Linked DNA regions of Homo sapiens. The protein of the gene in region 2 interacts with the protein of the main gene of each other region in a pairwise test. Each region holds a gene or a part of one and is shown on either strand. Other genes may lie near its edges. The genes, in order: FUNDC2, TMEM154, SGTA and SMIM1.

Region 1 (7,394 bases), on a different chromosome or scaffold from region 2:
GTCCATGTATTCTCTCAGTTTAATAGCAGGATTTTGTGGGATAAACAGGGTGGAGTAAATGAACCAGAGCCTTCTTTTAGATACAAATGTTGATACTCAACTATGTGGTTGCTGTAAGTAATTTGTTCTTTTTAGTACTAAGTAATATTCTATTGTGTAAATATGATACAATTTGTTTATCCATTCATGTGTTGATAGACTTTTGTGTATTTCCAGTTATAGACTCATAAATAAAGGTACTATGGCTTGATTACTTGTGAAGTTGAACTTTTTCCTTTTTGTGGACACTTTCCTCTGAATTGCCCTTACCCATTTTTAAAGTGAACTTTCTTACTGATCTCTATAAGAAGTTCACTTTTTTGAGTATCAATGTTTTGTTTATGATACACATCACAAGTATTTTCTCTAGTCTGTTTGGGTGACTGGTGGTGCCATTAGCTAAAATAGGGCCTAGAGGAAGAGCAACAATGCAGGAGGAGACTCTAGCAAGGTGAAGACTTTTAGTTTCAGATATTTTGAGATTGCCAAAAATTTGGTAGAGAGAAGTGATATTGATAGGGCATTGATTGATTGGCTACAGTCATTCTCTTCATTCCTAGGATGATATTAATCCATCATCAAAATCTACATGCTTGAATCAGATTTACACTGAGTTTTAGTGTTTGTGCCTGCTGTTTTTATCAAGGGAAATAGGTATATGCTGTAGGTGTCTTTGGATGTGGTTCTCTTAATATCCGTTTATATGAACTTGCTCATGAGAAATCTCTGTGGGGCCAGATGCTAGATTTCTTCCTGTTAAGCAACAGTAATAACTGCCTGAATGCTTTGCTCTGTTCACATTGTCAGGAAACTGACACTCATGGGCACATTGTCAGAGTCATTCTCTGGAAACATTTGTATTGGCTGTAAGGTCCATCTCTTCACCCTACATCTTGACCCCCCACCTTGATTTTCATCTTATGTAACTCTTTGTAAAAGGGTTGTAAGAGTATAAATAATTTAAAAGAATTGCCAGTAGTTATTTCTAGTGCCAGGCATATGGCTTCGCATATAGGGGGGATGCTGAGTAGATGTCATCATGATACAAAGAATCAAATGGCAGATGTCTCCAAAAATGGAAAGTCAGAGGGTTTCGAGAGTCTACTTCAGGATTTATCCTGACTAAAAGAAATAACAAATCTGTTTCTCATTTCTTGTTGTCATTATTGTTGATACTGTAGCTTGCAAACCATACTGGGTACATCAAAGTTGACTGGCAACGAGTGGAGAAGGACATGAAGAAAGCCAAAGAGCAGCTGAAGATCCGTAAGAGCAATCAGATACCTACTGAGGTCAGGAGCAAAGCTGAGGAGGTGAGACTTGCATTGTTCACGTGTAGTGTGTGAACAGTGCAGACAAAAACAGGGCTTAACCCTATTGTACCATATCTCAGTGATGGACAGGGCTTAAGCATTACAAAGAACTTAGAGTAATGAGACAAAACTAACTTGGATTATCATCACTTCAGAACATTTTTAAAAGCTGGATAATTGTTTGGTGACCTTTGTCTGTGCACATTTGTGGAGTGATTATCCCTTTAACCAGTTCTTGTAGGAATGTGGGGCAGCATAGTAGGTGGGAAGGATATATGGCCAGTATAATTATTTTGAGTCCCATTTTGTCGCTATACACGCATATCTCTGAAACATTCATACTCTGCTTGTTCTGCATATAACTAGTGGAAATGTCACAAGTATTCAACTCCACTGTATATCATCAAAATAGCCATAGATGATATGTTAAATAAGTGGATGTGGCTGTGTTGCAATAAAACTTTATTTAAAAACAGGTTCAGATTGGATTTGGCCCATGGGCTGTAGTTTGCTAACCCCTGATCTTGTTCATTAAAGCCAAGTTAGATTATGACCTGGCACTGCAGGGACAGGAGAAGTCCTTCCTTTTTAAAAGGATATTTTTTGCTGCTGCTTTATTACCTTTAGAAATATGTCAGATGTTGCAAATAAATAAGTACACTGAACTGGGGAGAAATAAACAAGGATCAGGGTGTCAAGAAGATAGCTGGTACTTTCTGTAGCCTGGAGTGATGAGAGATTCTCCCATTAGCTCACTCTAGCCTCACAGGGAAAACAGACAGATTGAGTGCAGGGGAGGAGAAATACCCTGTGTGCGCCTCAGGCTTCTCATGTTGTGAGTGGCTCTTCGTGCTGGTGATTGGCAAGTGGCTGGTCAAAGCTGGTGCCTTTACCCAGAGTGGGAAGGTGGCAGAGATGGGTATCTACAGGAGCCCAGAGCCCAGATAGTTTCTCTTTCCTTTCTTCCTTCTGTCTCTCCTCAAAGTTAGGAAAGTTACATTTTTTATTTCATGAAAACTTTATTATTCAAATGTTTATAAAAATAATGCATGGCTGGGCACAGTGACTCACCACAGTGAGTAAAAAAAAATTTTGTAAGAGAGGTCTCACTCTGTTGCCCAGGCTGGAGTGCAGTGGCACAGTCATGGCTCACTGTTGCCTCAACCAAGCGATCCTCTGACCTCAGCCTTCTGAGTAGCTGGGTCTATAGGTGTGTACCACCACACCCGGTGAAGTTTTAAATTTTTTGGAGAGACAGGGTCTCCCTGTGTTGTCCTGGCTGGTCTCAAACTTCTGGGCTCAAGCAGTATTCCCACCTCGGCCTCCCAAAGTGCTGGCATTACAGGTGTGAGCCATGGCACCTTGCTGAAAACTTTAAAAATAATACTGGAAGTGTATATAATAAAAAGCATAAAGTTAATATTTGATTAGAACCAACTGTTGACTCACAGAGGGAGTTTGTTATAAAGTAACCAGATAATTTGGAATTGAGTTCACTGTCACAGGCCCTGGGGATGTAGTGGCTGGTTTTCCTACTCATAGAGCCGGTGGTCTGATTTGAGAAACAGGATGAAGATTTAGTTCAGTATTTACCAACAAGATGACTTCAGTGAGAACAGTTTGGTGGGGTGGTGGAGTTGAAAGCCAAATTAGCAAGTTGAAGAAAGAGTAGTAAAAATAATAAACGAAACCAATTTTCTCAGGAAGTTGTATGATTTTTTTTCTTCACCCCAATGGCAGATGACAAAAGTGCTTCATTTAAGGAAATGTAGAGGTCCAGGAGAGATGGAGGAGGAGTGGAAATGAGGCAGGAAGACATAGGCATCGTTGGAGTAAGGGCTTACTGGAGGGTTAGAAGACAGTGGTCCTAGGAGGATGGGGTTGGTAGTGTGAAAAATGTTAGGGGAATGTCAGGGTGTGAGTAGCTTAGGTGGTTTGGGGATGGAAGTCACCGTACTTGAGTTCAAGAAATGATCAGGCCAGGATGTTGGATGTCTTGTTCATATGAACACTTTCTAAGGTGGTGATCACACTTAGGAGAAAGAGGAAGTCTGAGCCACTTATCAAAATTGTCTCTGAAATTGGAAGGGTGGGGAGTGGTCAGGAGATTGGTAGAGCACAGACTAAGGAGCCATAAAGAGTGTCTGAATGTATGCACTGAGTCTCAGATGACCGGGAGCTATTCCAGGAGGGTAGAGGGGAGGTGGGAAGCTTTGGGAACTTAAGGAAATAAGAACGTCACCTGTTAATCATCTTAGATGTGGTGAAGTGTGAGAATGAGAATTTATAGCATCTACCTGGGAGCAGGTTTCAGGGGGGAATGCATGGATGGAGAGATTTAGGGGAGAGACTTCAGGAAATGAGAAGCCTCTATTGGAGGGTAGATGCCAAAGAGGATGGAAGGAGCAAAATTGGAAACAGAATTGCCTCTGTAACCAGTTTATTTAGTGCAGCTTTACTCTTTCGCCATAACTGTCCCCATGAACTCTCCTTCTTTGTCCTTGATTCAAAGAGCCATTGTCTCTACCTCCTGATGTGCATCCTCCTTCCCATCAGGCTCCCTCTAGTCTTATTCTCCCCACACCAGCCAGTAGTCATTTTCATATGTAAGTCTATTTAATTATTATTAAATAGACTATTAGTGTAAGTCCATTGCCCTTTGGGTAAAGTGCAAATTACGTAACCGATGAGGGGATTGACATTGTTAAGACTGGCATAGGTATAATAGAGATGATTCTTAATATTATTAACATCCTTAGCAAAACAACCCATTGTACTATCTTCTGTTTTCAGGTGGTGTCATTTGTGAAGAAGAATGTTCTAGTAACTGGGGGATTTTTCGGAGGCTTTCTGCTTGGCATGGCATCCTAAGGAAGATGACCTCATGTTCATTGTTCCTGGTTTTTTCCAGCCAGCAGCCTCTACACTCCATCATAGGACATCGAGTCCCTCCTCCTCTTCTCCCATGCCTTCTTCCCTGCCATGGCAAATCTGAGTGGCTTCTCTAAGCATCTGCTGGTACAAGTCAATGTGGCACCATGAGCTTCATGGTGGCAGAAGAGACAATAGTCCTTAGCTCTCCTCCCAGTACACCCCCTACTTGGCCAGTCTGTAGGCCAACAAGAAGGTTCCTTTACCCCCATGCAAGACACTTATGAGAACACATTACAAGATGGCTGACCGTGGAGGATGAGTGGATCCTGAAAGGTTGTCCCAAACTGTTGATTTGGAAAAGAAATAAGCACATAGATAACCTTATTGTGTGCTGCATGGAAAGGAACTGAATACATTTGCCTTTAAGCATGAAAGATTTTGGTATCTTGGTGTCTACTTTCTTTTTTAGTTGGTTTTACATTACAGAAAGCTATTTAAATGTGTTATAATTATGCCGACAAAATTGGCAGCATAATTACTGTAATTGAAAAATCTGATATTGTCCAGGAATGCTTTCTACCGTACAGGATAATGTATCTCATGGCTGTTTCCAAAGGGTTTATTTATTGTAAAACAAGTGATTTAGGTGGGAAAGGGAAGATTTTGGATTTTTATTTTGTAGAAAAGGTTTTAAGCTTTGAAATGTGAATGAAATATCCTTATCAAAACATTAGGGGTGGCCATAACTCCTCTGTGCCACTTCTACTATTTTTTTTTTTAATCTAGTTAGTATGAAATACAACATTTAAACCGGAATTTTAAAGAAGTAGCTTTCCAGGGATTCAGAATTAAGAAAGATAGTGATAGGACATGAGAAATAAATTTCCATCAAGTGTAATCTACCGTCTCATGATGACCACAACCCTGAGAATTATTCTTTAAAAGCTTACACACACACACACACACGGGCACACACGCACACACAGAATCTTACCACATTTTGCTGTAGTGGCATGTTACCATGTCTACAGTCCCTACTAGAATATCAGTCAGCTTTCAGAGGGCAAGACTTCTGTCTTCACCATTATACTCACAGGGCCTAGCACTTAATAGGTGCTGAGTATTTGAATAATGACTTTATAGAAAGAAAACTCACTATTAAAGGTTAGTTTTACTCAGAATTGTTAATCTTGGAGATGATCTCTTGTGAAATATGAGTGTGTTTCTAAGGCCATACATTTAAAAATGTTTGCATTTTAACCCGTCTTGAGAATGATGTATTGAATTTGAAAATCAAAACTACCAGTGGATGTGTGGAACTTTACAGAAACCACCTATTTGCGTTTTTCTCCTTACATTTAAGGAAACATAAGCCATTTTGCTTGCAATATGTATGAATCATCTCAAAACCATAATGGTATGAGCCTCTTTGCTGCATATTTTGCTATAAGAACTTATTTTTTTTCACTTTTTATTATGGACGCTTTCAGGAATATATAAAAGTAGAGAATATAGTACAATAATCCCCCTGTGTATCTATCACTCACTCACAACAATCATCAAATTATAGCTCTGCTGGTTTTTACCAGTTATTGTGAAACAAATATCAAAATGTCATTTTATCATATTTCAGTATGTATCTCTAAAAGGTAAGAATTATTTCTAAAAATCATAAATACCTCATCATATCAGACATTAACAGTAATTACATAATATCCAAAATCTGATCAGTGTTCAAAATTTCCTCAAGTGTTTTATATTTAGTTTGTTTGAATCAAAATTCATGCAAGGTTCACATCGTATTTGCATGATTTGGATAAGTCTCTTAACCTTATAGATCCTCCTCTATTTTTTTTTTTTTGCTTGCTATATATTTATATCTCTATATATATTGATATAGACATATGTAGTGACACTGAGTCATCTGTTTCCTGCTTCCCCACACTCTGCCTCTCCTGACATCTGGGTCTCTGGGTTATGCCATATATGGTGATAGTGGCTGCAGCCACTTTACCTGTGTGACTTACCCACAGCAATGGGATGGTAACAGCAAAGCTAACCAAAGTGCTCTGTGCCCCTTTGGGTTGCATGTGGGGAGACTGGCCACCCAATGCCTCTCCAGTGGGGTAGGGGTTGTCTTTTGGTGCATCTGTTTTTCCTGTGATTATTGGTGAGGGCAGCAAAGATTAGCAGGTGGTTGTAAACTACCTTGAGTAGGTTGTAATAAATAGTCTGGCCTCAGACTGTATTCTGATTGTCTGAATTAAGATCTGTAGGTAGGTCCCTCCTGAAGTTTTTTCCCAGCTGGCTGCCTCTACGACTGTGAGGGTCATGGTTGAGGTCAGTATTGCAGGTTGGCCTCATCCTGCTAGTATGAGAACGGCTGTGAGTTCTGCCCACGGTGTGAGGCCACTGTGACCACTTGGGATTGTGCAGAGCTGGCATGGAGGTTGAACACGCACAGCTGCACACCTTGTTTTCAGTTTAGCTGAACCATCGGTGAAGGAGGCTCAGGCATTTGGGGTTACCTGTGAATCAAGGCCCTATTGTGCCAGCAGTTTTGTTTCAGGTGGTGAAGTGGGAGTTAAGGTTTCCCCCAAAAGAACAGCTGCCACTCCTCCATGCAAAACCGAGATGATTCAAGGACCAGGCAGCTCCACCTTTCAGTGCACTACTTTCATTTGACTGGAGAGGCCTGCTTAGCTAGGCACGTATTTTCTCCAGTAGCAGAGTCCAATGACGCTCTGGACTTCCTAATTAGTGGTGGTGGGGCGGAAGTTTTTCCTTGGGAAGAGCGTTGTCGCTGTATATGGTCCGCAGAAACTTGACTTGGAATGTGTTCGGGGTTTCATCGCCCCCTTGTGGCGGCGACGTGGTAACACCGCACTCAAGGCTTCCAACTTGTCAACCAATAGGATGGCATCTACGTAGTGAAGGCTTCCCTTCCCTTGTCCTGCAGCGTGCTGGACAGTGTCCCGGCTCAGGGACCCCTTCTGTCCCCTTCCTGGCTACTATGGGTCGGCCCTGCGTCCTCACCACTTTGAGCCACCCTTTGACCCAGCGTCTCTCCCGCAATGGGACCTGGTGGGATGGGGACTTGGAGCATGCTACAGGAGAGGTAGAACTTTTGAGTCTCTTCTTCCCAAGGTTCTCCCCAGAGTCGGAGAG
Region 2 (7,394 bases):
ACCTTGAGACTTTCACAATGAAATTCAATGAAAAATCAATTTCTGGATTTGGAGCCTAAGAGCCTCACCATGTGAGTGGATACCTCCAACATCCCCCCACCCCTTGAGTCCATTAGGTAAAACCAGTCATGGTTTGGGGAAGGAAATTATGACTTTTCCTGAATTTTAAAAAATTTAAAAAGCTCTGTTTGCTTTTTTTTCTTAAGCTTAGAAAGAAGCCTCCATATGACCATGTTATTAGGAAGTCCTGAAATTTCAAGCAGTGGAGAAACATGTATTTCCCACTTCTTTGGAATCTATTATATGGGCCTCTGCCATGAAAGGAAATACTCTTCGGGGCTTCTTCCCCAGCTCACATTTGCCTCATCTGCTGACTGTGAAAGATTCCTCTGGCACAGAGACAGTGAGGTGGGCATGTGGGACAAGGGCATGGCCCCAAAGCCAGAGGTGCCCTGTCATGGGTGTGAGGGACATAAAGTGAGTTTTGTATACATGTATGACTATGTATTGTATTAGAGACGTTCCTATCCTTTGAGTAACTTTTTGGAAAGACTATAAAGGCTTTAACTTAAAAATCGAATCCGAGCGAGTTTTACTGGCACAAGCCAAAAGTACCCAAGTCTGCTTTAGACCTAGAACTACCCTGACTCCTAGCACGTGATGCTCCTTGAATCACAACTGAATACTCTCAAAGTGGGTCTCTGACTGAGGGAATTTTCTATAATTGGTTTTCGGATTGATGTTAGTAATCTTTAGACAGTTGAAGAATTTGATTATAAAAGTTAGCATAGCTTCAATGGGAATAAGAACAATGCTTCCTCCAGGACTTTTCAAGATCAAATTGGGATGTGGGGTGGGGGAGAAAATAAAATCTGTAACAGAAATATAGATGAAAGAATGCTCTTCTGGTGGTGATGACCCCAAGGCCTCTAGCCTTCCCATCCCTAACCCTAATCTGACTCACTCCTTGATCAGCCTTTCTCTTTCCCCAGTGATGGGAAATGTTATACTGGCTTATTGGCTAAAATTATACAGGATCCTCATCTGGATTAGGGTCAAAGATGGCAGCAGTAGAAAAGCATCCCCCAGAAATATGCAGGTTCAGGTCCAGACCACTGCAATAAAGTGAGTATTGCAATAAAGCAAGTCACATTAATTTTTTAGTTTCCAAATGCATAAAAAGTTATGTTTTTCCTACAATGTAACCTATTAAGTGTGCAACATTGTGTCTACAGAGACAATGTATATACCTTAATTTAAAATACTTCATTGCTAGAAAATGCTAACGATCATCTGAGCCTTCCGCAAGTTGTAATTATTTTTCTGGCGGAGGGTCTTGCCTTGATGTTGATGGTTGCTGACTGATCAGGGTGGTGGTTGCTGATGGTTGGGAAGGCTGTGGCAATGTCTTAAAGTAAGATCACAATGAAATGTGTCACATTGATTGACTCTCTTTCACAAAGATTTCTCTGTAGCATACAATGCTTTGTTTGATAGCATTTTATCTGCAATAGAATTCTTTCACAATTGGAGACGATTCTCACAAAACCTGCCGCTGCTCTACCAACTATGTTTATGGAATATTCTAAATCCTCTGTTGTCATTTCAACAATGTTCATGGCATCTTCACTAGGAGTAGATTCCATCTCAAAAAAAAAAACAAAACTCTTTGTTCATTCAGAAGAAGCAATTTCTCAGCCACTTAACGTTTTATCATGAGATTGCAGCAATTCCATGGCATCTTCAGGCTTCACTTCTTATCCTAGTTCTCTTGTTCTTTCTACCACATCTGCAGTGACCCCTCCACTCAAGTCTTGAACCCCTCAAAGTCATTCATGGGTCTTGGAATCAACGTCTTCCAAAATACTGTTGATGTTGATATTTTGATCTCCTCCTATGAATCGGAAATGTTCTTAATGGCATCTAGAATGGTGAATTCTTCCCAGAAGATTCCTTCCCAGATTTATCAGAGGACTCACCATCTATGGCAGCTATGGCCTTACAAAATGTATGTCTTAAACAATAAGACTTGAAATTCAAAATGACTCCTTAATCCATGGGCTGCAGAATGGATATTGTATCAGCAGGCATGAAAACGTTAGTCTCCTTGTACATCTCCACCAGGCCTCTTGGGTGACCAGGTGCATTGTCAATGAGCAGTAATATTTTTAGTGGAATCTTGTATTTTGAGCAGTAGACCTTAACAGTGGACTTAAATTATTCAGTAAACCATGCTATAAACAAATGTGCTAACATCCAGGCTTGGTTGTTCCACTTACAGAGCACAGGCAGAGTAGATTTAGCATAATTCTTAAGAGCTGTCAGATTTTCAGAATGGTAAACAAGAATTGACTTTAAGTCACCAACTACATTAGCTTCTAACAGGAGAGTCAGCATATCTTTTGAAGCTTTGAAGCCAGGCAGTGATTTCTCCTCTCTAGCTATTAATAGTCCTAGATGGCATTTTTTTTTTTTTTTTAAGTAGGGACAGGGTTTCACCATGTTAGCCAGGCTGGTCTCAAACTCCTGACCTCAAATGATCTGCCTCAGCTTCCCATAGTGCTGAGATTACAGGCGTGAGCCACCATGCCCAGTCAGATGGCATCTTCTTCCAACAGAGGACTGTTTCATCTACATGGAAAATCTATGGTTGAGTGTAGCCACCTTCATCAACGATTTGAACTAGGTCTTCTAGATAACTTGCTGCAGCTCCTACATCAGTCCTTGCTGCTTCATCTTGCACTGTTATGTTATAGAAATGGCTTTTTCCCTTAAACCTCATGAAACACCCTCTGCTAGCTTCCAATTTTTCTTCTGCAGCTTCCTCACCTCTCTCAGCCTTTGTAGAATTAAGGAGAATTAAGGCCTTGCTCTGGATTAGGCTTAGGCTTAAGAGAATGCTGTGACTGGTTTGATCTTCTACCCAGACCACTGAAACTTTCTCTATATCAACAATAATACTGCTTTGCTTTCCTATCATTGTATGTTCACTGAGTAGCACTTTTAGTTTCCTTCAAGAACTTTTTCTTTGCATTTACAACTTGGCTAAATGTTTGGCACAAGAGGCCTGGTTTTCAGCCTATCTCAGCTTTCAACTTGCCTTCCTCACAAGGCTTAATCATTTCTAGCTTTTCACTTAAAATGAGAGATATGTGACTCTTCTTCCATTTGAACACTTACATGCCATTGTAGGGTTATGAATTGGCCTAATTTCAATATTGTTCTGTATCAGGGAATAGAGAGGCCTGAAGACAGGGAGAGAGACAGGGAATGGCTTGTTGGTGAAGCAGTCAGAACACACACAATGTTTATCAATTAAGTTCACTGTCTTCTGTGAGCATGGTTTCAGGCACTCCAAAACAATTACAACAGTAATATCAAAGATAACTGATCACAGATCACCATAACAGGCATAGTAGTATTGAAAACATTTGAAATATTGTGAGAATTATCAAAATGTAATGCAGAGACACAAAGTAAACATGTGCTGTTGAAAAAATGATACCAATAGACTGGTTTGAGGCAATGGTTGCCATAAAACTTCAATTTGTTAAAAAAAAAAAAAAAAGCAATACCTGTAAAGTGCAATAAAGCAAAGTGCAACCAAACAAGGCGTGCCTGTATTTTGAAATTCAATTAAACTTTTTTTTTTTTTAAAGAAAGGAATATGCATATATTCACTTCTGGAAAATTTCATTGAAATGTATTATTTATCACTTACTATTATATGTAGTCCTTGTTGCTTAATTTTAAAACATCTCTGCTCCTTCTCCAATCCCACCCCCACCTGTAGGCAGGTTTTAGGATAATACTCACATGTCTGTAAAGCACTCTGAGATCCTTGGCTAGAAGGTTCTGTATCAAAGCAAAGAATATTTTGTTTTATTGATTGTTCACTAACACATGAAGCAATTTTCTGGAAATGGAAATACACCAAATATTTACCTTGTTTAGTTCTTTTTCTTTTATAGTATGTTGCAAGGAATACCACGGATAAAAGTAAGAGGACCAATAAAATCAATGGGATTAACACCATCAGTATAAACTCTAACTGATTTTCATCCGGAGCAAAGTTGGTAGAATTTATATTTGCATTTAATGTTTCTTTGATGGTCACTGCAGCAAATGTGCTTGGAATAGTCACTTTATTTGGTCTTTCAGATTCCACAGTTGTATCTCCTGAGTTTTCTAATTCCTCATAATTACCTGTGGGAATAGATACAAAATTGAAATTTCCATGGAGACAAAGTTAGTATGTTATATTGTCAATGATTTTTAAATTATTCCTAGATACATTCTGTGATAAATTTGACCCACTATACTTGGCCTCCAAGCTAAGTGTGACACAGAACATTGATTTAACATAAATGAAGCTCAAGCTGGGAGTGTATTGAATATGGAATCAGAGCTCAGAGAAAAACCTTGCACAAAGGTAGGCAGTTTTGCATTGACCAGACATTTTAGATACGCTTAAGCAAAGTGGATTCGGAAGCTTCCTCATGTTAAGGGTGATTTTCCAAGCCAAGTAATGTGATATTACAGGACATCTCCTATAGGGTATGATAATATTTTAACAAAATGTCTGAATAAATTTAAATTCACATTTACTAAAATTAAGTACATGCCATACAGCACTTTTAGATGTAAAGAAATGCACTCTGTGTCCTAATTTTTTTTTTTTTTTTTGAGGCAGAGTCTTGCTCCATTGCCCAGGCTGGAGCGTAGTGGCATGATCTCAGCTCACTGCAACCTCCACCTCCTGGGTTCAAGCAATTCTCGTGCCTCAGCCTCCAGAGTAGCTGGGATTACAGGCATGTGCCACCATACCCAGCTAATTTTTGTATTTTTAGTAGAGACAGGGTTTCACCATGTTGGCCAGGCTGGTCTCGAACTCCATGCCTCAAGTGATCCACCCGCCTCAGCCTACCAAAGTGCTAGAATTGCAGGTGTGAGCCACTGCGCCTGTCTGTGTCCTAATATTTAAATAAAAGGTTACCTATCAATGGAAAATAATTCTTTGAAAATGAATTGACTGTGCCGGGCATGGTGGTTCACGCCTGTAATCCCAGCACTATGGGAGGCTGAGGTGGGCAGATCACCTGAGGTCAGGAGTTCGAGACCAGCCTGACCAACATGGTGAAACCCTGTCTTTACTAAAAATACAAAAATTAGCTGGGCGTGGTGGTGCATGCCTATAATCCCAGCTACTTGGGAGGCTGAGGCAAGAGAATTGCTTGAACCCAGGAAGCAGAGGTTGCAGTCAGCCAAGATCGCGCCATTGCACTTCAGCCTAGGCAACAAGAGCGACACTCCATCTCAAAAAAAAAAGAAAAAGAAAAAAGAAAAGGAAAATAAAAACCATCAGGATGAGAAAGGACTACTGACTTGATGACTATCTGAAAAACTTTTCCTTACCTGTCTAAGCAGTAGTCATGGTAAGATAAGCTGAAGGTCTTTGTCCTAATATCGTATAATGTTGTCTACCTTTCAGAAGGGGCCAACTGAGGAAAATACCTCGTAAGTTGATGCTACAGAAAACTTATCAAATGAGATAATTTACAAGAAAGTTATTCTAAGGTGAAAGGAACTATGCAAATACAGAAGTCAGCTGCTTTAAACCACACTCTGCGGTATAGGTTAGGCAATTACTTTACAGAATGATCAAACTGGACATTGCAGAGCCAATTCAATAGTTCATCTATCTTCATAATCCCATGACAATGGAGTCCTCTGATTTTGGTTGAAACAATAAAAATGTTTGGTCACTGCTATGAATTGAATGTTTGCATTCCCCTCAAATTCATATATTGAAGCCCTAATCCTCAATGTGATGGATTAGGGCTAAGAGGTGAGGCCTTTGAGAGGTCATTAGGTTTAGATGAGGTCATGAGAGTGGGGACCCTATGACAGGATTATTGCTCCTATGAGAAGATAAGAAAACCAGAGTTCTCTTTCCTTGCCATATGTGGATACGGAAAGGTGGTGACTGCAGGCCAGGGAGAGAGTTCTCACCAAATACTAAATCTTCTAGCACCTTTGATCTTGAACTTCCCAGCCTCCAGAACTGTGAGAAATAAATGTCTGTTGTTTTAAGTCTTGCAGTCTGTGGTATTTTGTTATGGTATCTGAGCTAAGACAGTAAGAATCTAATTGTGTTGATTGTATGAATAAATACTTTCAGTCTCCCACATCAGGGAATTCATTTGATAATCCCTTTAGTAAATGCAACCCCAAACCATCAGAATCAATTACAAACTACAGAGTAAACTCACTGGTGTTTCTCATGTGTATATGCCAAAGGCAGGATTGAAAAAAAAAACTACCAATGTTTGAAGAGTGGAGGGGCTTCAAAATGGCTGACTAGATGCATCTGGCAGTCACCTCTTCACAAAAAATAACAAAAATACTGAGTAGATAAGCTACATTTTGAATTGATCATTTAAGGGAGAACACAGGAATTCAACAGAGTAGTAATAGACAACACTTAAAGCACGGAAGGAGAGGGAAATAAGGCATCCTTCTTGGCTGAGACTGGCTGGGAGCCAGGAGAAGCTCCCCAATGTGGGGAAAGGGTAGTGGTCCATATTTCCACTGCAGACTCCTGCAGCCTAGCCACGGGAGAGCCCCTCAACTCTCACAGGCCCTGAGACTAACACTGAGAGCGCCTGTACACTGTGCAATGGCATTGCTCCAGAGAGGGACCTTATGCGGAGTCCCACACACCCCTGAGCCCTAGTGGCTGCAGCACAGTGCCACTTTGAGGGCCCAGCCCCCACCAGACTGTATCCTGCCCTAGGGCCCAACAGCCCCTGAATCTCCATGTCTCTGGAGCTCCTGCCTGCAGCCACCAGCGCTGCTGGCTGCTGCTGCCAGGGCCAAGGTAGGAGCCGCTGGCAGCACCCCTCCCCCCACCCCTGGCCAGCAGCGGGGCGCTCACACATGTTTATGTGCCTCAAGGACAAACTCCACTGTCCTCAGCTATTGCTGCTATAAACTGCTGCTGCTAGGGCCAAAGCATGAGCAAAGCATAGCCCCAGCTGGCTGCCTATGGTTGCTCCCACTGAAAGCAATCCCATCCTCTGCAGTAGCAGGCAGCAGTGTAGTCACTGCTGCCTTCACCTGAGCTTTCTATCAGCAGCCTGGGGATTGCTTCACCCCTACCTATTACAGCCAGCTACTGCATGCCCCACCAGAGAGTCAAAGAACAGGTCTGCACAGGCCAGCTCTCTCCCAGTGCAGTACTTGAGTGTGCCATTTGGGGCCTGGTGATTGCCCAGCCCAGTCTAGTCCATCACCACTGGCACCACAGCATTCCTCCCAGATGCCTGAGGTTGGGACTACCCACTCTGCTGCCACCATCATAGTTGGCATCCACCCTCATGTACCAGCTACAG
Region 3 (7,394 bases), on a different chromosome or scaffold from region 2:
GCCACACGGCAGGGACACCGAGGGCAGAGGTGGGTGACGCAGCCACACGGCAGGGACTCCGAGGGCAGAGGTGGGTGACGCGGCCACACGGCAGGGACACCGAGGGCAGAGATGGGTGACGCGGCCACACGGCAGGGACACCGAGGGCAGAGGTGGGTGACGCGGCCACACGGCAGGGACACCGAGGGCAGAGGTGGGTGACGCGGCCACACGGCAGGGACTCCGAGGGCAGAGGTGGGTGACGCGGCCACACGGCAGGGACACCGAGGGCAGAGATGGGTGACGCGGCCACACGGCAGGGACACCGAGGGCAGAGATGGGTGACGCGGCCACAGGGCAGGGACACCGAGGGCAGAGATGGGTGACGCGGCCACACGGCGGGGACACCGAGGGCAGAGGTGGGTGACGCGGCCACACGGCAGGGACACCGAGGGCAGAGGTGGGTGACGCGGCCACACGGCAGGGACTCCGAGGGCAGAGGTGGGTGACGCGGCCACACGGCAGGGACACCGAGGGCAGAGATGGGTGACGCGGCCACACGGCAGGGACACCGAGGGCAGAGGTGGGTGACGCGGCCACAGGGCAGGGACACCGAGGGCAGAGGTGGGTGACGCGGCCACACGGCAGGGACACCGAGGGCAGAGGTGGGTGACACGGCCACACGGCAGGGACTCCGAGGGCAGAGATGGGTGACGCGGCCACAGGGCAGGGACACCGAGGGCAGAGATGGGTGACGCGGCCACACGGCAGGGACACCGAGGGCAGAGATGGGTGACGCGGCCACACGGCGGGGACACCGAGGGCAGAGGTGGGTGACGCGGCCACACGGCGGGGACACCGAGGGCAGAGGTGGGTGACGCGGCCACACGGCAGGGACACCGAGGGCAGAGGTGGGTGACGCGGCCACACGGCAGGGACACCGAGGGCAGAGGTGGGTGACACGGCCACACGGCAGGGACTCCGAGGGCAGAGATGGGTGACGCGGCCACACGGCAGGGACTCCGAGGGCAGAGATGGGTGACGCGGCCACAGGGCAGGGACACCGAGGGCAGAGATGGGTGACGCGGCCACACGGCAGGGACACCAGATTGCCCTCACGTCCTCACAAGGAACGAGCCCCGACAGAACCTTGATCATGGACTTCCGGCCTCCAGGACTGAGAGACGATGAACTCTGTTTCAGCTGCCTGGTCTATGGCACTCTGTCACCGCGGCCCCAGCAAACCGACACTAACACCTGGCAAGCAGGCATCTCAGGACGCACCTCAGTCCTCGTGACGACTCCAACAAGCGGGTCGGCCCTGTCTCCAGCTGAACTGAGCCAGGTTGGGCAGGGACGCGTGGTCGCATGCCCAGGATCACATAGACAGGAGAACAAACGGGCTGTCATCACACGGAAGGGAGCAGTGAAGGGCGGTGGCCGAGGGACACGGAGGGAGGGAGCAGCTGCGCGTTGCTCACTGTGCTGCGGTCCCAGGAGCCAGCTGCCCGAGGGGCAGCTTCTTTTATAAGAAAACGACACTTCCTATCACGTCTATGCAAATGTCCATTTTAACTTTAAGTGCACAGATGTCTAATGGCCCGAGACACGTAGGTTAACACCCGTGCACGCGTACACAGAGGCCTTCACCTACAACCATCCCCGTGTAGACAGCATCAGAGGCAGGGCACCAAAAGCATTAAAACCATGCAGATGACCTACCTGAGCACTTCGCAGACCTAGAACGTCAACTATGTAAAATACCTGCCCATGAACATTGGCAAACTCCTGGCCTCAAGCAATCCTCCCACCCTGGCCTCCCAAAGCGCTGGGATCACAGGTGTGAGCCACCATACCCGGCCTCCTCCAGGAGGCAAATGCTGAGGAAAGCCGTGGATTCTACTGACCCACTGGATTTTGCTGAAGCTGTGTGCGCGCGCATGTGTGTGTGTGCGTGCATGTCTCTCCAGATTCTGTCTCTCTCCCAGACCAGCGGTTCTCGATGGATGTGCTGAGACACTTGGTGTTGTCTCACATGGAGTGGGGGGAGGCCAGGGACGCTGCTCAGTGCCCTGGAGTGCCCAGGACGGCTCCATCCCAGAGGATGATCCGGCCTCAACATCCACAGCTCCCACTGGGAGAAAGCTGGACTAGAAGAGGAGGACCTGAAGAGCCTGTGGGTGCACCAGGCCCTTGACACAACACCGTCTCATGACCTCGGCGCAGTGACCTATGCGGCAGGACTGGGGATGGAGGTGTTCACTCAAGGCCACTGGAGCCACAGGCACGGCAGGATCCGCGCCCGGCAGGCGCCTGACCTGCCCCCACACTCAAGATCAGAGGCGTTCAGTGTCTTGGTTCCCCTAAAATGCCTCTACATGAGGTGAACAGCCACCACCCCCTAGAAAATGAGGCGTGGGCTGCCTGACCGCATAACCCACCCCGCGCCAGAGACAAGCAAGGCATTGGCCCGCCACGCTTTAAACAGTGGCTGACGTCAGACTCAGATGACACCGGCGACGTGGACCTCCACGCCACTAAACAAGCATAGTCCCAGACACACTGGGTGTGCCCACAGCTTTGTTTCCCTTTCAGGGAAAGCAACATCCATCAGCAATCATTAAAAAACAAAACAAAACAGAGAGCAAAAGAGCCAGACCCAAAGCACACACAGGGTGTGACACCGACTCCATTTCTATGAAATGTCCAGGACAGGCCCATCCAGAGACAGGAAGGAGACGCGTGGGTGCCGGGGCTTGGGGAGGGGAAGGGGAGTGACAGCTGGTGGGGACCAGCTTCCTTGCTCCCTTTTGGGGCGATGAGACAGCTCTGGAACCAGAGAGTGGTGATGGTTGCACAACCCTGTGAAGGCACCAAATGCCACTGAATTTCACGGTGTGGGGATCACAGCGGTGTGGGAATCACAGCTCAATGTTTTAAAGGGGGAGAAATCTACAAGAGCTGTGTTTTGTGTCGCTGGACAGGGAGTTACGGTCTTCCTGAAAGCTCCTGCGGGATGGTAATGAGTTTTCCGCCCCCATCTCAGGACACAATGGACAGCCCAGAACTTTGAGGTCTGGGATCAGGACTGCCTAGAGCCGGCGGGCAGCCAGTCCCAGAATCCAAAGATCTCATGTACGACACATCAGGGCCCACGGCAGTCAACCACCACCAGAAAGTGAAACCACAAAAGCTGACGTCATCCGCCCCGGCCAACAGGGTTCAGAGAGCAAACCAGTCAGGTCTCCTGACCCCCAAGCCCAAGGAAAACAGACACATGCCACCCGAAAGGTGAAGATTTTTGGTTTACGGAGTTTCTTTTGTTTTATTTTTAAGCACGTTTTGACAACAGCATTACAATAGCCAAAAGCAAACAGCCCAAGTGTCCACGGACAGGTGAGTGGATCAACACAATGTGGCCTAGCCACACGACGGAACGCTACGCAGCCATGAAAAGGAAATCCTGACCAGGCTACAACATGGGCGGACCTTGAGGACGTCGCACTCAGTGAAATAAGCCAGAAACAAAGGTACAAAACCTGTGTGACTCCCCTCCTAGGCGGTCCCTAGAGTCGTTGGATTCACAGAGACCAAAAGTGGAATTGGGGGTGCCAGGGGCTGGGGAGTGAATGTTTCATGGGGACAGAATTTCAGCCTGGGGAGATGAGAAACTTCTGGAGATGATGGTGGCGATGGCTACATAGCTGTGTGAATGTGCTTAAAGCCACTGAACTGTGCATTTATAACTGATTAAGATGGTAATTTTTGGCCTGGCATGGTGGCTCACGCCTGTAATCCCAGAACTTTTGGAGGCAGAGGCAGGTGGATCACCTGAGGTCAGGAGTTTGAGACCAACATGGTGAAACCCCATCTCTACTAAAAATGCAAACAAAATTAGCCAATCATGGTGGCGCACACCTGTAGTCCCAGCTACTCAGGAGGCTGAGGCGGGAGAATCGCTTGAACCCGGGAGGTGGAGGCTGCAGTGAGCTGCGATAGAGCCACTGCACTCCAGCCTGGGTGGCAGAGCAAAACTCCGTCTCAAAAAAAAAAGAAAGACTGGTCGGGCACAGTGGCTCATGCCTGTAATCCCAACACTTTGGGAAGCCGAGGCAGGCGGATCACCTGACATCAGGAGTTCGAGACCAGCCTGACCAACAGGTGAAACCCAGTGTACAAAAAATAGCCGGTCGTAGTGGTGCGCGCCTGTAATCCCAGCTACTTGGGAGGCTGAGGCAGGAGAATCACTTGAACTCGGGAGGTGGAGGTTGCCGTGAGCCAAGATCGCACTACTGTACTCCAGCCTGGGCAATAAGAGCAAAACTCCATCTCAGAAAAAAAAAAAAAGACCAGGCGCAGTGGCTCACACCTGTGATCCCAGCAGCACTTCGGGAGGCCAAAGCGGGGGGATCACTTGAGCATAGGAATTCAAGAGCAGCCTGGGCAACATAGGGAGACCCCATCTCTGCAAAACATTAAAAAATTAGCTGGGTGTGGTGGCACACATCTATAGCCCTAGCTGCTTGAGGGGCTGAGGCAGGAGGATCGCTTGAGCCCAGGAGGTCCGTGCTGCAGTGAGCTGTGATCACACCAATGCACTCCAGCCTGGGAAAGAGAGTGAGACCCTGCCTCAAGAAAAGAGTTTCTCTTCAAAGTCTGGGGTCTTTGAGATGAGGGTCACACCCAACCAGGTGTCTTTAGCTGAGAATGGTGCCGACATCTCTTCAGAGGTTTCATTGGAAATGATTCTGTAACAGGCGGCATCAGGTCAGGATCCCCAGGCAGACACACCTCACTTGGTGACCTCAGATTTGGAAGAGGCAACAGCAAGCAGCAGAAACAAGACCTGGGCCAGGAGCGGTGGCTCAGGCCTATAATCCCAGCACTTTGGGAGGCTGAAGTGGTCTGGAGTTCCTGACCAGCCTGGCTTCTACTAAAAATACAAAAATTAGCCGGGTGTGGTGGCGGGTGCCTGTAATCCCAGCTACTCGGGAGGCTGAGGCAGGAGAGTTGCTTGAACCTGGGAGGTGGAGACTGCACTGAGCTGAGATCGCACCACTGCACGCCAGTCTGGGTGACAAAGCAAGACGTCATCTCAAAAAAAAAAAAAAAAAAAGAAATCAGACCTGGCTGAGTCCCCGCATAAACCTAGAAGGCGGGGGTCACAGCCCCCTCTTACAGAGGGAGTGACAGGCCCAGACAGGTGGCACACGCAAGATCCTACCAGTGACAGCTGGAACTCGGCTTAGCATTCCAGGCACACAGGGCCTAGCACGATCCACGCTGAGGGGTGTGGGGGGCAGGGGTGTGTGTGTGGAGGGGGATGTGCGTTCCTTCGCAGGGAACTAACACAGAATAAACCAAGAAATCTCATCTTTGGTTCTTTGGTGTACCTGTTTCCTTCTCTCTTAAACTGAGGTGTGAGAACTGGACAGGGTGGCAGGTGGCTAGGGACCCAATGAGGGTTCAGAAAGTGGAAAGAGTTGCATTCACTGAGTCACACTCCTCTCTTCCAGTGCCGCCGGTGCCTCTGTACCCCAGGGCTTTTGCACGTGCTGCTTTCCCTCCTGGAACACCGCCCCCCCCGGCCCCCGCCGCCACATCCCAGAGAACCTCTTAGCCTCAGGGTCTCCACCCTACCCCATCCCTGTTACCCTGGGACAGAGCTGAGCAGAAGTGCCCCAGCTTAGACACCCTGGGCTAGGGGATGCCACGGATCCCCAAGAGACTCTGTGTCCCATGATCATTTGCTCTACTAAGGTCCCAGGAGGCTGCACACATTGAAATTCACAAACTATGGAGGATTGCTTGAGCCCAGGAGTTTGAGGCCAACTTGGGCAACAAAGTGAGGCCCTGTCTCTAACAAAACAAAACAAAACAAAAGATAAAATAAATCCACACACTAAGGGGAGAGGGAGCAAGGAGGTGAATCCTAGGAGCTGGGGACCCCCTGATTTCCACCCTCTGCCCAATCAGAAGTTTATTCTGCTGTCCAGTGTGAGCAGGAGCAAGCTCAATTTTTTTCCCAAATAATTAATGCAGGTCTGTCGCCTGTGGCACTGTGGGCATCTTGGGTGGATGATTCTGTCCTGCGCACGGCAGGGGGCTGAGCAGCACCCCTGGCTCCCCCCACTGCACACCAGAAACACTCTCCAGTTGAGACAACCACACATGTCCCCAGACACTGCCAAACCGCCCCCAGCTGTAAATCACTGATGGCCACTAAGTGGGAAGAAAGGCTGGAAGTCAGTACAGGTCAGCTTTTTCTGTCCAAAATGACTTTGCTGTGAGCTTTCTGAAAACCTTCTGCTTGTAGGCTATTCTGGGTTTCAGAACTGCGGGTCCACGGTGGAGGACTGCTCAACTAAGGGAAGCACAGGCCCTGCCCAGCATGTGACACAGGCCAGTGGTGCCAGGACCTGTGGCTTCTCTGCTGTCCCCAAGGTGGGGGACATCATCAAACGGTTCTCAAATCTGCTTCAACAGCCAGGCTTTCCCGTAAGAAAGTTTTCTGCTCTTCAGAGGGGGGTCCAGCAAGCATGAGGACGGCATTTTCCTCAACTGCCGTTTGGCACTCGGTGTCTTTGGAACAATCACAACTTGTAGGGTTTGGCTGTGGGACAGCATCTCAAAGAAGGCCTGCTGTGTCTCCCAACAGCGAGGGCTTTATGGATGCTCAGGAGCCATGGCCGAGGCCTGGTTTCAAGGCAGAGGCCGCAGAAGTGAGGGTGGGAGGGTGCTGGCCCATGGGGGTGGCGCCAGCTCCAATGTTGGGGGCTTCAGCGTCCCTTTCGGCTCTGAGCCGATGACTCCACATCCCACCTTTTCATTTTATCATTAAAATAAAAACAAAATCAAAACACAGCCACCTCGGTCGGGGCGGTGGCTCACACCTGTAATCCCAGCACTTTGGGAGGCCGAGGTGGGAGAATCGCTTGAGTCCAGGTGTTTAAGACCAGCTTGGGCAATACAGTGTATAGTGAGACCCTACAAAAGAGACTCTAAAAAAAAAAAATAGAATTAGCCTGATGTGGCGGCACACACTAGTAGTCCCAGCTACTTGGGAGGCTGAGGCGAGAGGATTGTTTAAGCCCAGGAGTTGGAGGCTGCAGTGAGCTGTGATTGGGCCCTGCACTCCAGCCTGGGTGACAAAGTGAGACCCTGTCTCTAAAAACAAACAAAAAACTCACAACCACCTCTCTTCCTTATTTCCCTGCCCAGAAGGGATCATTCAATGGAAAAAAATAGAACATCCTCGTAAACTGAGGTCGTCTTACCTCCTCACACCCCAGTAGGAAGGGCCCGCTCTTACCCACTACCTTCTGTGAACACTCTGCCCAACTCCATCCCAAATCCACGGTGCTTCTCACCAACAGCAGGGCAGGAGAGCCGGGTGCCCTGCTCCTCACTCCCTC
Region 4 (7,430 bases), on a different chromosome or scaffold from region 2:
TTGAAGGGCTGTGTGCCAGGTGTTTGTGCGCCCCCGTGTGGGGCCGATGACAGCTGTGCACCTGGTGTCTTCGTGTGCCTGGCTGCCAGCGCGTGTGCCCTGTGCGCTGTGTGTGCCGCAGGGTCCGTGTCTGTGGGGGGGTCCATGTGTACAAGGGGTGTGTCTCCAGGCCTGTGCTCTCACGTGTGCGGCCAGCCCCCCGCGTGCATGCGGGGCAGCATTTATTTGCACTTGTGCACATAGTAGCCTGTGAGGTAGCCCAGGATGAAGATGATCCAGAAGAGGGCCACGCCGCCCAGCACCTTCATGGCGATGCCCAGCTTGCCCGTGCACAGCCTCTGGGAGATCCTGGGGTGAGAACCAACTGGAGGTGAGCCCCAGGCCAGGGCCGCATGAGGGGCCCCCTAAGTGGACTGTGGCCGTTGGTCTGGGTCAGGGGGAGGGGCCTGGGCGCTCTGCTGGAGTCAAGAGGAAGCTCTCCCCGCCCACAGCCAACCAGAGGGAAGGCCAAAGGCTGCGGTTTGCTGAGCTGCTGGACCGTGGGCTCCCAGCCAGGATGGGGTGGAGGGTGATGGGGCCGGTAGCAGGGGTTAGGGCAGGCGTCTCTGGAGGGAGACACCAGCCTGCTATGGCTGGCAGGCTGCCCTCAGGCCCCTCACCTGCGGCAGCGTGAGGCCTCTTCTGTGCTGGACACAGCCCCTAGGCTGACTCCGTCCCTGCTGCCGTCCTCCCACCTACTATAGTGGACGTGGCTCTCCTGGGGCTGCATGCTGTGGGGCTGCAGCGGGAGGGGCGGGGCCTTCTCGGTGGGGAGATCAAGACAGGTGGCCAGGCTGTGGCTTCACTGTAAAACAAGCGGATGGAGGGCGGCAGTCAAGACCCCCTCTGAGGCTGCTGTTAGGAGAGGGGCACTAAGGGTCGGGGGCTGACTCCCTCACCGGGTCTGTCGCCTGACTTAACAGGTGACCTAGACACAAAGTGGTAGAGTCATTTGCCCAGGGTCAGGCCGGGAGGATGGGACCAAGCGAGAATTCCATCTCAGGCCAAGCCCTGACCTCAGGCATGTGGGAGGCCAGTGTTTCCTTCCAGCACACTCCAGGAGCCTCCCTTCCCCGGTGCTTTTATCAGGGAGCCTGCACAGCCTGCCACCCTCAAGAGACGAGGACATTGTGGCCCAATCTAGGCTGCAGCCCCTGATAACTGTCCCCCTCCTTAACCCTGCCCGATAAGGCGCCTTCTGGCCTCTGGGGAGGCTGGCCAGGGGAGGGGGGGGTGGGGCAGGGCAGCAGGTCCGGGGCAGCGGCTGGTACAGCTAGACCGGTCCCTGTCTGGGGAGGATGCGTGGCTGGCCCCAGGCAGTGGCAGCAGCTGTGTCCTCAGCCTGTGTGGGTTGCAGCCCCTCCCCCACCCACACCTCTAGGAGGGCTGGGGCTTGGGGGGCATGATGCACTGAGCACGGGGCCGGGGTGGATTCAAGGCCTTGGGGAGGCCCTACAGAGACAGGAGGGTCGTAGGGCTGGGTGGCTGCCCAGAGCAGGAGGGGCCCGGCCCCAAGGCCAGCTCCCTGCTGGGCTCCAACTCCTGCAGACCTGGGACTCATCTTTGCATCTCGGCACTCAGCTCGGTGCCTGGCAGCCCAAGTGCCCAGAGGGGCGAGGAGACCACGGGGACTGAGCAGGAACTCCAAGCACTAGCACAGCTGCCCGGCCGGCCTGAGCCAGCCCGGACTCTAAGCACCTCCTTTACCCTCTGGCCTCTGTTTCGACCTCCTATTTACCTAAGGGGGTGTGGGGGTGGAGGAGTTGGAGGGGGCACGAGAAGTTGACAACCCACCCAGGCTGTGGGACTGGGGTCAGCTCTCTGGTCTGCTGGGCCCCCAGTGTCCCCTCTCAGCATCTGGCCCCCAGGAGTGGGGTCCTCGGGCAGGCAATGGCAGGCCCCTCACTTCTAGGAGCTGAGGCTTTGCTGGGCCCCCTCCAGCGGGGAAGGCTGACCTTCCTCCCAGGTCATCGGCACAGAGGCCTAAAGGCACAGCAGCCACTCCCCTGCAAGAAGCCAGCTCAGAAACTCAGGCCCCAGGCAGTTCTGAGACTCCCGGCACTTCCATGTCTGCCTTCCCCCAAAGCCCAGAGAGGCAGAAGGAGCTGTCTCAAAGCCATAAAGTGTGCCTTCGGTGGGAGCCCTGGCTCAGTGCAGCCTGGCACTCAGGCCCGGAGAGGCCCAGCCTCTACTGGAGTATGGGTGCTGTTTTCCCGGAGCATGTGGAGCGGTCAGCTGCCTACCCGAGGTTCACGCCCTCTTGCCTGGTGTGCAGAATCCCATTCTGGTCCCAGCAGCAATGTGCCAGCCCCAGGTAACAGCCATGACCCGGGTAAGACAAGCTTAATACCACCACCCCTGCTTTCCCAAGTCACCCAGCTGGGGTCCAGGAGCCAGGGTGCAGCAGGGGATGGGAGAGTTTGCTTCTGTGAAAGCAGCAGCAGCCACCTCCTTCTTCCAGACTCGACGTGATGGCTGGAGCTGCTGGAGCTGCAGCAGCCGCCTTGCAACCCGACATCCACGCAGCATTAGTCTCGGGAGTGCTGAGGCTCCAAGTCCACAGCAGCAGCCCACCATGGGCCTCCCGGTGGGAGGGGTCAAGCCCAGTGTGTTCAACTCTGGGATCATGGGTTCCTGTCTTGCTGACGTAGAACACGTTGTTCCCAAGTCACCCCGGTGCACAGCCACCAGAGCCGGCCCTTGAGGCTGGCCTCCCTCACTTGCTCAGTAAACGTCTCTCCACACTCATGTGATGGTCACAGGTGTGGCGGCAGGAACCCATCAGGGACTCCCCTCCAGGCCCTGGGAGGCTCCCGGATCCTGGCACCTCCTGGGGGCTTGTGAGTGCAGGAAGGCCCTAGGTACACAGGCGCCCCTCCATAGACCTCTTCACCCCACAGCGCCTCAGGGCCCCACACTTACCCGGAGAACCTTGCCTGAGGGCTGGGGCCTCTGGGCCAGGTTGCGGTCAGGGCCTGGCCAGCGGCCCGCACCTCCCAGCGGGGCAGGTCGTGGGCTGAGGTGCGGCAGACGCCTCGAGCCTAAAAAAATAAAGGTGACCGGAGAAGCCGATCTTGCTAAGGGCCGGGAAGGGAAAGTGGCTGGTGTCGGGGGTCCCCAGCAGCCACAAGGAGCCGGGCAAGGAGCCGGGCGGGCAGTTCCGGCCCTGGCCCCGCACCGCGGGTTAGGCCGGTGGGGGTCAGTCCAGGGCACGCCCCCACCCCCGCCAGTTCTCAGCCAGCGAGGCCGCGCACAGTCGCACCTGCCCACTGCGGCCGCACCGGGAAGCCGCAGCCCGGACCCCGCGCGCCTCACCTGTGTCCCCGCGTCTCTGGGCTCCGCAGGGGCCGGGCCTGGGCAGGGGGCGAGGGCGGGGGCGGGGCCACGCGGGGAAGGGCTGGAGCCAGCAGCGGGGAGGTGTCTGGTCCGGAAGGTGGCGGGGCTAGAGTGGTGGGCGGGGCCATGCGGGGAAGGTCTGGGGCCAGTAGCGGGGAGGCGCCTGGTCCAGAAGGGGCCGGGGGCGGGGCGAGAGGGGGCGGGGCGAGAGGGGGGCGGGGCCATGCGGGGAAGGGCTAGGGCCGCAGCGGGGAGGCGCCTGGTCCAGAAGGGGCTGGGGGCGGGGCGAGTGGGGCCGGGAGACGCCTCGTCCGGAAGGGGCCGGGGCTCTAGGCCGCCCAGCCCCGGGGCCAGGAGGTGCAGGGGGGCCGGGCAGGGTCTGCAGAGGGCTGCACTTTCTGCCCCCAGACGGCTCGCCCTTGGGGCCTCCAGGGTCCCCGACCTCCTTCACCCCTGCTGGAGCCCCTCCGACGCCACGAGCCTCCCAGCCCCGCGGGGACCCGGCTGCAGCGCCGACGAGACTGCGGGAGGCTCTGGGCGCGTCTGGGCCTGAATGCTGGGTTCGGGGACCCGGCCGCGGGGACCGTCCTCCTCCGGGGCTTGAGGGGCGTGGCGCCCGCACGTGGCCCACGCTCGGTGCTCGCGGCGGGAAGGGAAGCAGGTGTGGGTGGGGAGCAGAGAAGGGTAATGGGGAGAGTCCCTTCCGAAGGTGTTCAGGCGCCCAGAGCCTCAGAGGCGCCGGGGAAGCGTCGGGGACCACAGACACCGTTCCCGTGCGTAAAGCTTTCCTTCCAGGAGCGGGGGGATGGGAACAGAGCCCCCCACCCTCACCATCTTCCAGAGGGGTCCTCCAGCAAGAGAGTGCCCCAGCCAGGAGAGCCCCCAGGGCAGAAGGTCACAGACCCCTTCTGCTCAGGCGTGAGGTCTGTGCTGAGTGCTGGGCGGACACCCCGGCTCAGGCCTCTGGCAGCCTGGTGCCGCAAGGGGACCTGTTAGGAGCTAGGGGCACAGGCTGGTGTGCTGACTCCCTGTGAGTGAGCTTTGGAATGGGGAGTGTCCTTGTAGCTCAAGGTCGCAGAGGAGAGTAGGCCCCCGCGTGGATCCCAGAGAAGAAAAAGGTGGGACAGTGCCAACACCGGGGTTTAATTCTGAGTCTGAGAGCAGGACGCATGGTGGGGGCGGGTGGTTCTGGAGCTGGGCCCCGGCCTCTGCTGGGCTGACCGTATTTGGGGGCCTGGCTGGGCCTACTTGGAGGTCCCCTTCTTGGATTTGCTGGTCAGGAAGGCCTCTGACTGTTGCAGGGGGGGCACTTTGACGCCTTTCTGCTTCAGCTGATTATAGTAGTCGCTTCTCTCTGAGATAATTCTCTACACAAGAAACACAGCCGTCGAGGTGGCCTTCCCAGTTCCTCACCTTGGCCTTGAGGCCGGTCTGCACAGTCCGTGCCAGCTGCCCGGGACGCCACCCTCTCCTCCTCCTCCAGAGAGGCTTGCTGCAGCAGGGGTGTGCTGGTGAATACTTACAACCGGCTCTCCAGGGGGAGAAAAAACAAACAACCCTCGGCTTTGTGGCGTTGCCAGTTTCTGTGGTGGGAATATTCCCACAGTGGCTGATTTTCAGCCACGGAAGTGAAGTCACAGAATGCGGAGCCGGGGGCAGGTGCACACCACCAGCCCGCAGAAGCCTGCACTAAGCCCCCTCTTCAGCCCTCTTAGAGTTGTGAGGAGCCCCAGACTCCTAGAGATCTTTGAGGTCGTCACATCTGTCCCTCAAGTCCCTTCTGTCCTGTACAGAGGGAATGTTGTCCCCACCTCTCTTCCATTCTCCTCTCTGGGCCGTTGCTGGTTCATGTCAGGCTATGGCAAGCAAGCAAAGGTGCTCTTCCCTGGCTACTGTGCGGTGGGAATAACTCCCTCCATCCTCTGTCTTCCCTCTTCTCTTCCTCTTTCTCTCCCCTTCCTCCTCCCCTCCCCCAGACAACAGTACCAAGGCCGCAGAGACCTCTCTCCACATTACAGCTCTGCAGGAGAGGCACTGTCCAGGGCCCCCCACTCTGCAGAGGAAGGGAACCAGGCCCCAGGAACGTGGGTGCTGGAAGGTCAGGGGCACACACTGGGGTTCAAGGGCAGCCCCAGAGGGTGAAGTGTGGGTCTTGGGAACAAAAGCAGCTCCTGGTGAGAGGTGACCCCTTCGTAGTACACAGCCCCACACAGAGCCATAGCCGGTGCCCGGCTCCCAGAGCTCTGAGTCTTACGACACCTTGCAGGTGAGCATGCGCTGTCCATCACAGAGGGAGGCATCTATGGCTCAGAAAAGTGAGTGTGTGGCCCCCAGCTGGTGGGTGGTGACCCCCTCATGCCCAGTGACCCCAAGGCCTGAATTCTCCTACACCCCTCTACTTCTCCGAGGCCCTTGCTTGGGGACCCCTGGTCAGGAAGGAGCCCAGGAGGCTGTGGCCGGGGTGGGAGGGGTCTGCACCAGGGCCCTGGATCAGTGGGTGGTGATACCAGCGGAGGGGACCAAGCTGGACAAAGCCGGGGCTGGGCTCCTGCTGTGGGAGAATCTTCGTGCCCTGAGCGGCTTGTCCCCTCTCCACAGCGCTCAGGATGGGTTGTGGCAGTTACTGCTGGTCTCTGATGCCCGTCCCCCGTTTTGCTGAGAGTAGCTAAGACTCCCGTGCCATGCCCCCACCTGCCTTAGGATGATTTGATCCCCTCTGCCTGAGCTGAGAGAAAGGAGGGTCCTGGGGTCCAAGTGAATAGGTGACACAGGTAGGATGAGAACAGAGTCCCTGGAATCTAGGCCCCCCACAACCCCCTACCACAGCTCTGGCCTGGGGGTCTGGGGCCCGGATAGAGGCAGCTGAGCTTAGGGGTATACCTGCAGGGCTTCCAGGATGTCATTGTCAGAGATCTCGTTGGCCAAGGACTTGGTCCCGGAGATGCTAAAGGTGGCCTGGATGATCTTATTCCTTAACCTCTCGAGCTGTGAGCAAAGGGACAACACTATCATTCGCCTTTACCCAAGAAGGCACCTGGCCAGTGGGCTGCACCCCCCACCACCTTATTTTTTATGTACCAGGAAGGAACAGCTCACCCTCACTTTTCATGGCTTTAGAAACTGGAAACAGGTGTCAGAGAAGTCAATGTGGATTGTCTGAGAGCTAGGAGGTGCCGGATCCAACCCCTGACCCTGTGCGGCCCAGCCCCAAAGCCCAAAGACTCTCCTACACCAGGTGGGCTTTTCTAATTGGAAAGTAAAACCTACACACACATATATATATATTTTTAAACCAACAAACCAAAATAGTACAGAAGCCGCACGTAACCCCTGGACCATCCTCCACTGCCCAGGGGAGCTGCAGTGAGCGGACTTCCTGGCCCTTGGGGACACTCTCACTTTAGGCATTTAACAGTGCGCTGCTGGTGCTTCCTCCTTTCCATGCTGACTAGGAGGTGTCTGTGCCATGGACAGCAGCGTTGAACCTGGCCCCCGCGCACAGACCCAGAAGGCGTTCTCGTCTTCTGCTGCCATGAAGATCCTTGTCTGCCTGTACACCCGCAGCCGCCTCCCCAGAGGTAGCTAATCGTGCCTCCCAGGAAGCTGCAGAGGAAACCCCTCCAATCTGCACCCCAGGAGCCTCAGACAGGAACCCCTTGAGTTATGCGGCACGCTCAGCACGAGTTCCTCGTCCAGAAACCCTGACGACGCAGAGGTGCCCCACAGGAGCTGGGCCCGAGAGGCTCAGCCTTGCCTCCGAGTGGAAGCATGTCCACACTGCCGCTCGGACAGGTTTAAGTGACAGCAGGAATGTCATGGGCCCCTGGCCTGTGTGAGGAGTGGAATCCTTTCCTTCTTTCCAGTATTTATTGAGCGCCCAACTTTGTACAAACACCGTGCCAGGTGCTGGAGGTCGTGAGGTCACAAGGGGCTGGGCCTCTGTACTGGGGGTCCCTCCCCAGGGTAGAGGTTGGCAGCTACCCGGGGTGTCCAGCCTCACTTCCCCACACCCGTGGGGCCTCACCATCAGGCTTGGCGCTAGTTCCTGCTCACCC

Evidence for each region.
Region 1: the proteins of TMEM154 (region 2) and FUNDC2 interact in binary tests that used the Homo sapiens proteins (3 or more experiments, as listed by UniProt).
Region 3: the proteins of TMEM154 (region 2) and SGTA interact in binary tests that used the Homo sapiens proteins (3 or more experiments, as listed by UniProt).
Region 4: the proteins of TMEM154 (region 2) and SMIM1 interact in binary tests that used the Homo sapiens proteins (3 or more experiments, as listed by UniProt).

The regions. Positions count from the first base shown.
Region 1 is NC_000023.11:155,050,450-155,057,843, forward strand, and holds part of FUNDC2 (FUN14 domain-containing protein 2), read left to right. Parts: intron 1-1,220; coding exon 1,221-1,352; intron 1,353-4,145; coding exon 4,146-4,223; 3' UTR 4,224-7,394. UniProt on the Homo sapiens protein: Binds directly and specifically 1,2-Diacyl-sn-glycero-3-phospho-(1'-myo-inositol-3',4',5'-bisphosphate) (PIP3) leading to the recruitment of PIP3 to mitochondria and may play a role in the regulation of the platelet activation via AKT/GSK3B/cGMP signaling pathways.
Region 2 is NC_000004.12:152,648,722-152,656,115, forward strand, and holds part of TMEM154 (transmembrane protein 154 precursor), read right to left. Parts: intron 4,207-7,394; coding exon 3,946-4,206; intron 3,856-3,945; coding exon 3,817-3,855; intron 1-3,816.
Region 3 is NC_000019.10:2,772,941-2,780,334, forward strand, and holds part of SGTA (small glutamine-rich tetratricopeptide repeat-containing protein alpha), read right to left. Parts: intron 1-7,394. UniProt on the Homo sapiens protein: Co-chaperone that binds misfolded and hydrophobic patches-containing client proteins in the cytosol. Mediates their targeting to the endoplasmic reticulum but also regulates their sorting to the proteasome when targeting fails.
Region 4 is NC_000001.11:3,768,713-3,776,142, reverse strand, and holds SMIM1 (small integral membrane protein 1), read right to left. Parts: upstream 3,395-7,430; 5' UTR 3,355-3,394; exon of another isoform or gene 3,081-3,354; 5' UTR 2,962-3,080; intron 845-2,961; 5' UTR 770-844; coding exon 660-769; intron 349-659; coding exon 222-348; 3' UTR 187-221; downstream 1-186. Other genes in the region: CCDC27 (coiled-coil domain-containing protein 27), read right to left, coding at 4,620-4,742, 6,256-6,360. UniProt on the Homo sapiens protein: Regulator of red blood cell formation.